Linked DNA regions of Homo sapiens: region 1 is linked to region 2. The links come from fine-mapping of genetic effects on gene expression. A gene starts in region 2. The other region holds a variant in brackets. All regions are shown on one strand. Distances are between the middles of the regions. Region 1 overlaps RDX (radixin). Region 2 holds the start of RDX (radixin).

Region 1 (5,533 bases), 60 kb before region 2:
GTGCAAATAGTTGATGAGAAATAGATATTCATATAATGCCTAAGAATCTCACACCCAATAGATTTTATTTGAGCCACAAGGGGAAAATGTAACCGAATAACGGAGGAATGAGACTGTCGTTACTCAAATCCAATGATCACTAAAAAATACTAATGGTGAGTTAACTAGATATTAAGTGTCTTCTGATATGATACAACCTGAAATATCTAACATCACCAATTATTTGGGTGATCATATTATCTTGGTTTACCTGGAAAAGTCCTGTTACACTGTTGTCCTGGTGTAATTATGAACAATACCCCCTTTTTCTCAAAAGTACTCCAGTTTAGATGTTCAATTATATGGAAGTCTCACCTTTGATGCACTGTAGTCAAAACATTTAATTTGAATTCCCCAGGTTCTAGATCTAACTTCTGGTTCAAAGGAAATACTGGAGTTAAAGGATAAGGTCAATGACACAAGGAAGTAACTAAACAAATATAGGAGGTGAGACATTCTGTAGGTCCCTTCAATAAATCAAAATAATAAAAAGAGAAACTGCCCTCCATTAAAAGAGACTTACAGCAAATACAGACAATGCAAAGTCCTCTGAACACTTGTCTGGCAAATTAGCTATGAGACTTTTTGGGAAATTCTTAATATAGTCTAATATTCTGAGATGAAAATTGACTAAAATGAAATAGTACATACAGTAAGATTTCATGTTGAATATATAAACAGGAAGTATCCTGGAAGAATATGTACTAAGGTTTTGCAGTATTTCCCCTAGTTTATGGGAATACAATTGTCTTTTGTGTGCATTTTCTAATTTTCTATAATTCACAGACTTGATATCTGTAATATGCTAATTTTTTAAAGTTTATGTGTCTCTAAATTTCATAAATCATCCCTAAAAGGGATCTAAAAAATTCTAATAAACAAGTAGAGTAACTGGGAAATTAACAGTAGCATTCCTTTTGTAGTTTTATTTATATATAACTAATTTTCAATACATATAAAATTACCCAATGAAATTTAAACTGCTACAAAGATTTACTTAAGAGTGCAAGAAAACTGTTTTCTGTATAAGTACATTTTATTGTAGAAAAATCATCTTCTAAAACTAAATATCATCTTTGGGGGTAAAAAAATTATCTTTTCAGTTAAGAGTTAATGTTGTTTGAATTAAACTCTCATTATCTTATATTCCCCCACTCTCCAACCAAAGCCTGATTTTACAATTGTGTGCTACTTTAGACAACAGTGGTTTCATCTACTTAGGACTCATATTAGAAATCTCGGTGTCAGCTGCACACAGTGGCTTACACCTACAATCCCAGCACTTTGGGGGCTGAGATGGGAGGGCTGCTTGAGGCCAGCAGTTCAAGACCAACCTGGGTTACACAGCAAGACCTCCATTCTCAACAAAAATAAAAATGATGGTGCATGCCTGTAGTCTCGGCTACTGCAGAGGCTGAGGTGGGAGGATCCCTTGAGCCCAGGAGTTCAAAGCTGCAATGAATTATGATTGTGCCACTGCACTCCAGCCTGGGACACAGAGTAAGACCATGTCTCTAAAAAAATAAAAATAATTCAACTTCATATCCAATCACTGGTTCCCATGCCTTTTTGTGACCACAAAATGTCTCTTATATCTTCCCATTCCTCTTTATTCTCATTTTCACATCCTCAGTTTGGGTCTTTATCTCTTAAGTATCCACTATCCCAATCCTTTCTTCACACTGATCACTACATGGTTTTTATAAAATCATATCTGATCATGTTACAATCCTGTTTTGAAATCTTCTAAGCCCCAAGTCAATCGATACTCCCACTGCCTTGCTGTAGCAGAGCATTTATTTAAAGCCTTTCACAATTCCCTATTATCAAACTTGAGGGCCACATCTCCTAACATTTCTGAACAACACTAAGCCTCGGCTGCTTATTGGTTATCCTCAAATCTATTATATACATTCATACTTCCTATACTCATTCAGTTCCCTCTGTCTAGAATGACTACTTCTTCAGTCTCTAACTATTCCCAATTTTACATCCCAATCTTTTGTACCCCCAAAATTTAATTCATTATTCAAGACCCAGCTTAAATGTATATGGGTCTCCCGACAACTCTCTGGTCCCCCAGAAATTAATCACCTCTTCTGTGTTCCCAAAGTACTTGGTTTATATCTGTAGATAGATATTTACAATACACATAACACGAGTATCTTTCCCACTCTAAATTATGACAGTATCTTACACTTATCACTACAAAGTCAGCATAATCCTGGGTATAAAAGCTATTCAATAAAAGCTAGTAAATGAATAAATGATTACTTTGTGTTGCCACTCAGTAGCTTCCTCTTCCTTTTTCTTCTTGGCTTCCTCTAGAAGTGCAATCTTGGCAGTGAATTCAGCAAGTTCTGCTGCCTAAAGTAAACAATATAATTCCAAAATTAAAATAACATATTTTGAATAATCTTATAAGTCAACAAAGTTTTAATGCACATGCTTAGGCTGTTTATGTTTTTCTTAGCCTTCCATTTAAAAAAATACAGTATTTCTTAAGATCTTAAATAGCTTATTTACAATAAGTCCTTTAGGTAATGAGCTAAGGAGACAAAATTAAAAAATTACTATTATTCTACAGACTAGTTAATCCTGCTTTCAGTAGCAGGAACTTAAAATGTGTAACTTAAAAGCTTTTTTAAAAAATTTCCATCAATAAACTATTTGTTAAAGTCCACAAAAGATAAAATATTTATCTAATGCTATATACTTTAAATGGCACTTTGTCAAATCATCTCATTTAATACCCCAATAATCCTAACAGGTAGTATCATTAACAGGTAGTATCATTCCTCCTTTTTTTTTTTTCAGACAGAGTCTCGTTCTGTCACCCAGGCTGGAGCCCAGTGGCACAATCTCAGCTCACCGCAACCTCCGCCTGCCAGGTTCAAGCAATACTCCTGCTTCAGCCTCCCGAGTAGCTGGGATTACAGGCGTGCACCACTGTGCCTGGCTAATTTTGTATTTTTAGTAGAGACAGGGTTTCGCCATGTTGGTCAGGGTGGTCTTGAACTCCTGACCTCAGGTGATCCACCTGCCTCGGCCTCCCAAAATGCTGGGATTACAGGCGTGAGCCACTGTGCCCGGCCATCATTCCTCTTTTCAAAGGGAGGGAACTGAGGCTCAGAAAGACCCAAAGACACATACATAGCAAGTACATGTGTGAACTAATATTTAAATCCAGGATCTTTTAAGTGACACGCTTACATCTAATTATTTGCAAGTCCACTAAATAAAAAAACCCAACCAATTATGGCCTCATAGGAACTATAACATATTATATATCTATA[ATATAT/A]TATATAACTATAACATATATCTATATTATATAACTATAACATATTAATTTATCTAAAGCAAAAGACGCCAACTGACTTATTACCGAACCTGTCCAATGTCAAAGTGAATCAGAACCTTTTGCTGACAGTAGACTCCATTTACAAATAATCTATAGAAAAATGCCTTATTCTTTTGTATTTTTAGGTTTTTGTTTAGGCAGAAATAAATTTTCTAGGTTTTTGTCTACATTTTGTTATTAAGTTACATGTTATCTTTGGCTTGCTCTCCAGAAAGCACAAAATGGTTGCTTTTCTTTTTTTCTTTTTTAGAGGGTTCACTCTATGCTTTTATTTAAACTTTTTTCTCTAAGAAGACAGTTCCTTACTAGCTGCTCCTGATTCTTCATCTGGTCGGCAGCTTGTTTTGCTATGGCAGACTTTGCCTCTTCAGCAGCTCGACGCTCCTTTTCAAGTCGTTCTGCTTCTTCTTTTGCTCGTTTTCGTTCTTGATCCAGTTCTAGAGCTTTTCGAGTCTGTTCTTCTAGTTCTATGAAATATGTGTATTCCCCCCAACAGTGATTAATTCCAATCATTCTCATTATCAAAAGAAGCTAAAATAGTAGCAAGAAATCAAATCTGTTCAATTTCTAAAAGTTAGCACACATGTAAATACATATATACCTCTTTGTTTTCTTGAGACAGGGTCTCGCTCTGTTGCCCAGGCTGAAGTGCAGAAGCTCACTGCAGCCTCGAACTCATGGGCTCGAGCAATCCTCCCGCCTCAGCCTCCCAAGTAGCTAGGACTACAGGCGCTATACCTCGTTTCCAACTTGGCAAAAGCCTAATAATTTTTAAAGAGAAATGAAAATCTTCTGCAATTCAAGTTATGTAAAAAGGCTACAAGCACGTAACTATTTTATTTTTAAAAAATAATCTCTCCATCTGAAGTTTTGACCTCAGTAAACAAATTGCCATGTTTCAGAAATCTATAATACATTTCAAAACTTCCATTAAGGTTTTACTTATCTAAACTAATAAGTAAATCCAAGAAATTAAGATTGAAAACAGTATTTACTGACCCCAAAATAGGAATTTTGATGTGATTATATGAATTATTGAAAAATGTGAGTTATTGGTATATATTCATTCCTAAAGCATGAAGATAAGCAATATTGGGAGATAAATAACATGAATTTTAATCCTTAGGTGCATAGATCACTAAATCAACTCTTTTCTTATTCCAATGAGTTGAACAGGAAAGGAAAATAAATTTTTAAGAGAGTTTAACAGTACTAACTTTAAATATTATTTTGACAATTATTTAAGCCCTGTGACAGAAGACAATAGAATGCCACCTAGTAAGACAGTACAAGGTCCTACAAAGAATTATTTTCCCTTACTGTATACTAAGAAAATCTATATGTCATGAAATTTGAAAGCTAACTGTAACTTACAAGCTTTTACTTACTGTTCTTAATTTTCTTGGTCTTGATCAGAACTAGTTGAGTAATTGCAGTTAAGACTTGGAAGGTTTTAGGCCAGGTGTTGTGGCTCATGCCTGTAATCCCAGCACTTTGGGTGACTGAGGTGGGTGGATCATTTGAGGTCAGGAGTTTGAGACCAGACTGGCCAACCTGGTGAAATCCCGACTCTACTAAAAATACAAAAATTAGCCAGGCATGGTGATGGGCGCCTGTAATCTCAGCTACTTGGGGAGGCTGAGGCAGAAGAATCTCTTGAACCCAGGAGGCGGAGGCTGCAGTGAGCCAAGATTGCACCACTGCACTCCAGCCTGGGCGACGGAGCAAGACTCTGTCTCAAAAAAAAAAAAAAAAAACAAAAAAAACACTTGGAAGGTTTTGAGAGGGTTGGAGAAGAATGACTCTTTGGTTAGGCTTTGGTTAGGCTCACGCCTGTAATCCCAGCACTTTCGAAGGGAAAGGTGGGAAGACCGCTTGAGGCCAGGAGTTTGAGACCAGTCTGGTCAACAGAGTGAGACATCATCTCTTCTTAAAAACTAAAATTAAAAAAAAAAATCAGTAGCTATTTATATATAACAACAGTAAACAATCTGAAAAAGAAACCAAGAAAGCAATTCCATTTACCATAGCCAAAAAAAAAAAGTAAAACACCTAGGAATCAATCTAACCAAAGAAGTGAAAGAAGGACATTGGTCTAGGCAAAGATTTTTTGTGTAAGACCTCAAAGGCACA
Region 2 (5,000 bases):
CCCAACAGTGACTTGCTTGACTTCCCCGATGCACAGAAGTAACACGAAATTATATTTATCTACACCTTACATATAAACTCCAGCAGCATATAGCTCAGTTTTCACAACCTTAATAAAACAGATTTTTTTAGACTTTGGCCTACAGGAAATATTGGTTAAAATTTGACCCCGTTTTTAAACATTAGTAGCATAAATTAAAATGCATTAAATTAAAAATGGATGAAAAAACAAGACTCTCACCATCATTTACCATTTCAGACTATTATATCAGATCACACATAGTAGGTTAAAAGATTGAGAACTGAAAGCAAAATAAAAATATATAAAGACTTTCACTTCAACAGCCTGCCAAAGATAAAAAATGAATAATAAAATCCAATTCTGGCCGGGCGCAGCGGCTCATGCCTGTAATCCCAGCACTTTGGGAGGCCGAGGCGGGCAGAACGCCGGAGGTCCAGGAGTTCCAGACCAGCCTGGCCAACATGGCAAAACCCCGTCTCTACTAAAAATGCAAAAATTAGCCGGGCATGGTGGCGCACGCCTGTAGTCCCAGCTACTCGGGTGGCTGAGGTACAAGAATCACTTGAACCCAGGAGGCGGAGGTGCAGTGAGCCAAGATCATGCCACTGCATATCACCCTGGGAGACAGAGCGAGATGGGCTAACTGGATTAAAATAAGCATCGGTTTCATTAAAAAGGACTAACTTGAAGATAAATCTTTTGACTCTAGCTCTTTAGAGGATCTAAAGTGACCTTGATGGACAGTGGAAGAAATCACAACATGGAATTCCTTGAGTAAAAATTTATCGACTTAAAAAAAAAATCCAATTCTGCTTTTGGGAACAGTGAACCAATAAACAAAAGACAACGCGTTCCCCATCCCGGAGACTAATGAGACTCAGCAAGGGAGGGAAACAACAGCAAAGTCTGTCATTTCTTACCAACAAAAGGAAAGTAATCAATTTGACTTTCAGTTAATTAATCACAATTTCAAAAAAAAAAACAAAAGGACAGACTCAACGTATTTTCCCTACACCCAAATTAATTACATCTATTCTACAGCTACTTCTGAGACTCTCCTACATACTCTTCCATGTGTGGGGATACAGGAGTGAACAAAACATTGTATGTGATTCCTAAGGTCAAGAACTCAACGTTTTTTCAATGCCACAATCAAATTCTGTCTCATTTAAATAAAACTGTAAAGAATGCCAATGTCTATTCATTCCTTGCTAATAATATACCAACTGTTTATTAAATTCCATCATATATAAAAAAGCGATTAAGCAAAGAAAGTCACTGCAATCGTCTTTACAGCATACGATTAACTTCAAAAGGAGTGTTTTACATGTTGCTGTATTTGAAGGAAAGTATTATTAATCTCTGGAAGATAAAGCACACTGGGGAAAGCAAAGAAATTCTGAAAATAAAAAACTGCAATCCTGAATATTAGTCTCCTTTCTCAAATCCAGTGATGCTGTTTTGGCAAATGGATCAAGCCATTATTTATCCAGCAACATGAACGGGGTAATTGTTCCTTCTTAGCTCCATCAGTCATATAAAAGAGTATTTAGTGTTCTAAAAAAAAAAAAAAAAAAAGAAGTATGCTCCTTAAACAATAGATTACAATGTCTATGTCAAAGTACTCGTTTATCAAATAAACCCTTATTATCTTAGACTTTTATATTTACATCCTGCCAGTCTTAGTGCCACAAGAATGCCATCGAGTTCCTCAGCAACGTGTCTTCCACCAAAATCTCAAATGTATTTTAAAATATATTTTTATGAAGTTGACTTTTAACACATTTCCAACCTAGTAACTACTCTTTAAGGAAAAAAAAAAACCACCAAATATTGGGAATGTCTGAAGAAACATGACATCTGTCTAGGAAGTGATGTAGTCTGTTTAAACTGAAAAAAAAAAAAAAACAAAAATGCACTGCCCCCTTTCAAAGTTAGTCCGGGAATTGAGTTTAGAATCCTTTAAAGGAAAAGAGGGATATCATGTACTGAACTTGTCTGGTGGGGTCTGAGACACTAAAACTGAGCGGCCTCAAGGGCCCGAGAAAGTTACAGGGCTCCGAGAGCTGCAACAGCAGCAGGTAGAGCTGCGGCCGGGAACCGCGGCCCTGGCCTGGCGGGTGCGAGCGGCGGGAGCGACTGGCGCCCCAAAGCCTGTCATGCAACATCCCCTTTGCCACTGGGGCGGAACGCACGCTCTCTAGTAATTTAACACCCCTCCTTTCAAACTGGAGGCCGGGGAACAAGTTCTAATAAATGTAAAATCGAATTCTACCTACGCTGAATATCTGGATTTTCAAACAACCCTTGGGACCATGCCAGCCCGGGCCCGGGGCCCAGTCCAGGCAGCGGGAGCCCACCGTCCCCAGGGCGCTGGGGGTCCGACACCGGCGCTGAAGGCAGACTCCGCGCCCCGAGGAAAGGAGAATCCCGCGGCGGCGAAGGTCGACTTTGGCCCGGCCAGGCACGTTCGGGCCGCGGCTCAGCCACGACTCGGGCAGGGCCTCGCGGCCCCTACCAGCCCCGGGAGGAGCCTGGCCGGCCGGGCCGTTACCACAGTGGCGCCTCGGCCAGCTGGGCGCGAGCGGAGGCGCGCCAAGCCCTGGCGGCGGCGCCACGGCCGGGCAGCACGGGCCCCGCAACTTCGCGCCGCCACCTTAGCGTCTCCGGAGGAACCGGGAGCGGGGAGTGGGGGAAGGGAGGGCGCCGCGCCTTACCCGGAGAGCGGGCGGCTTCTGCCCGCCGGCGTGTGGCTGGGGCGCTGCGCGGCGGCGCGGCTGCGACAGGGAGGGAGAAGCGGTGGTGCGAGCGCTGGCCCGCGGGAGACGAGAGGCGCCGCCGCCACCGCAGACAGCTCCGCAATATGGCCGCTCGGCGCCTCCGCGGGAAAAGGCGGGGCTGCCCGGCGCCCCCCCGCCTCCCCCTGCCGGCCGGCCGTCCTCGCGCCGCGGACTGAGCGCCAACGCCGCCGCTGGGGGCCGCCCCCGCCCCGCCCCTCCCGCAGGCTCGCAGCCGCAGGCCTGGCTCCGGGCGTGGCCGGGGGTCGCGGTCTGGGGCCGGCCAACGCGAGGTGGGTGGCTGCGGGCTCGGGAGCGCCCAGGGAAATAGGGCGAATGCGCCGGAGGGTCGAGCCCTTCCAGAGAGCGCTGGGCTCCAGCTAAACCTGCGGTCGAGGGAAGCGGAGCCGCCCAGCCCAAAGCTCGGAGTGTGCCCGCCGCCTCCCCAACGAGTGGAAACTTGAAACTCCCGCTGGTGCCAGCAAACTCACTGAGGGCGTTGCCGTCGCCCCCAGAGGAGGAATTCTTCCCAGAGGGAGCCGGGGACCAAATGAAGCGTGAGACTTGGCTGTTAGGTTTGAAGATCCTGGACTGGGAAGGAGAAAAGGGCCTACCTGAGCGGAATTTAGATTTGCAACAAAGAACGTTTACATTATTTTGGCAGGTTTTAGCCAACTAGAAAAACTTAATTTTTCAGCGACAATTTTCAAACTTCACCAAAACCTCAATGGATAAGACCCCAAATCAGGAGTGCAAATTTTAATCCAAGCAAGGATGTGTGATAATTTTTTATTACCAACGACATGCTTTGGCAGTTGGAAGGAGTTGGTTAGCAAGAAAAAGTTGGAAGTAGGGCCCCAAAGAGCCGCCAAACCTACATAATTCTAGATTTAGAGAAAGTTAGGCATTCGATCTTAAGACTAAGTCTAGCCCACTCACTTTAGTTAGTGGCTGGGATGAGACAGGAAGCTCCTGACTTCTGGATCAGTCTTCTGTCATCTAATCCATGCTGAGTCCCCTCAGTATTGTCTGCTGGGATGATTCAGGGAGCAAAACTTGCTATGAGTATACAAACAGCAAGCGCACAAAATCAGATTCGCCTGGCTTGCCCTGTTTGCAATACTTTTTTTAGCTTATCTTTTGTGAACAAACTTTAGATTCAAATAACAAAACGCCTGAGTATACTTACTTTTATAGGACAAATAACTCCTATACTTCCTGCCTTAGCATTTACCTTAGGTGAGACAGTAGCTTTTCCAGGAAATATCTGCAAATCACTTTCACTAGCCTGCCTCTTCAGTGAGTTTCCACTATTGCCCTTTGAGACCTCTCCGAACAATTAAAAGCCCCCAAGAGACTCAAGGGTTAAACTCAAGGGCCTTTAGATAGCAAATTCCTCAAGGATGGGAACCAGGTGTGTGACTTGCGACCAAATAGGTTCTTGTGGTTCTTAGGGACCACCAAAAGATCACTCCTTACCTCTCCCTAGGGTGCAAGAATTATCCTGGTTATTGTTCAGCCTACCACATCAGGTTGCAGGCATAGTCAAAGTATTACGTAATACTTCCCATGAAGTAGGTAAGAAAAAAAAGTATTATGTAAATTCCTACATAGTACACTAATCAAATGAAATTATATAACACACTTTTGCAACTGAAAGTGAAGGATTCACTGTTGTTGGTCAGGTGCCAGACACTGGTGTGAAATTCTTTTACATGACTGTCTCTTTTAATGGTTACAAAAACCCTCTGGGATAAATACTATTATTGACCCTTTAAAAAAAATCGATGAATAAGACAGCTTAAAAAGAGGTAAGTAATTTCCCCAATGTAACAAAACTAGGAAGTGGCAGAGCAGTGACCAAACCCAAATATATGTTTGACTCCAAAAGCCTTGATTTTATCCTATCTTCTGCAACAGCAAACAGACCAAAAATTGCAACATTTTAGTTGGGTATCCTATTAGTAAATATTTAAGTGAAAGATAACAGTCAAGGCTGGTGAGATAAAAAGGGTACTCTCAGACATGGTGAGTGGGAGTGTAAACTGAAATAATCTCTTTATAAAGCTATTTGGCACTGTGATTCAACCCCTAAGAACTTTCATGGCAGGGCATGGTGGCTCATGCCTGTAATCCCCGCACTTCCTGGGAGGCTGAGGCGGGCAGAGCATGAGGTCAGGAGACCGAGACTATCCTGGCCAA

The links. PIP is the estimated chance that this variant, and not a neighbour inherited with it, causes the effect.
Region 1: its variant is fine-mapped to the expression of RDX in blood mononuclear cells (TOPMed, PIP 0.91).

Annotation. Positions count from the first base shown.
Region 1 is chr11:110,233,786-110,239,318 of GRCh38, forward strand. It overlaps RDX (radixin), which reads right to left. Exons shown (of 14, transcript NM_002906.4): 11 at 3,707-3,867; 12 at 2,314-2,406. Among named protein-coding and RNA genes, the nearest start is that of RDX, 60 kb to the right of the region's middle. The variant ATATAT/A (reference allele first, on the strand shown) is at 3,336.
Region 2 is chr11:110,293,729-110,298,728 of GRCh38, forward strand. It overlaps RDX (radixin), which reads right to left and starts at 2,886. Exons shown (of 14, transcript NM_002906.4): 1 at 2,739-2,886. RefSeq lists an enhancer at 1,983-2,855 and silencers at 2,069-2,128, 2,259-2,358, 2,369-2,418, 2,469-3,268.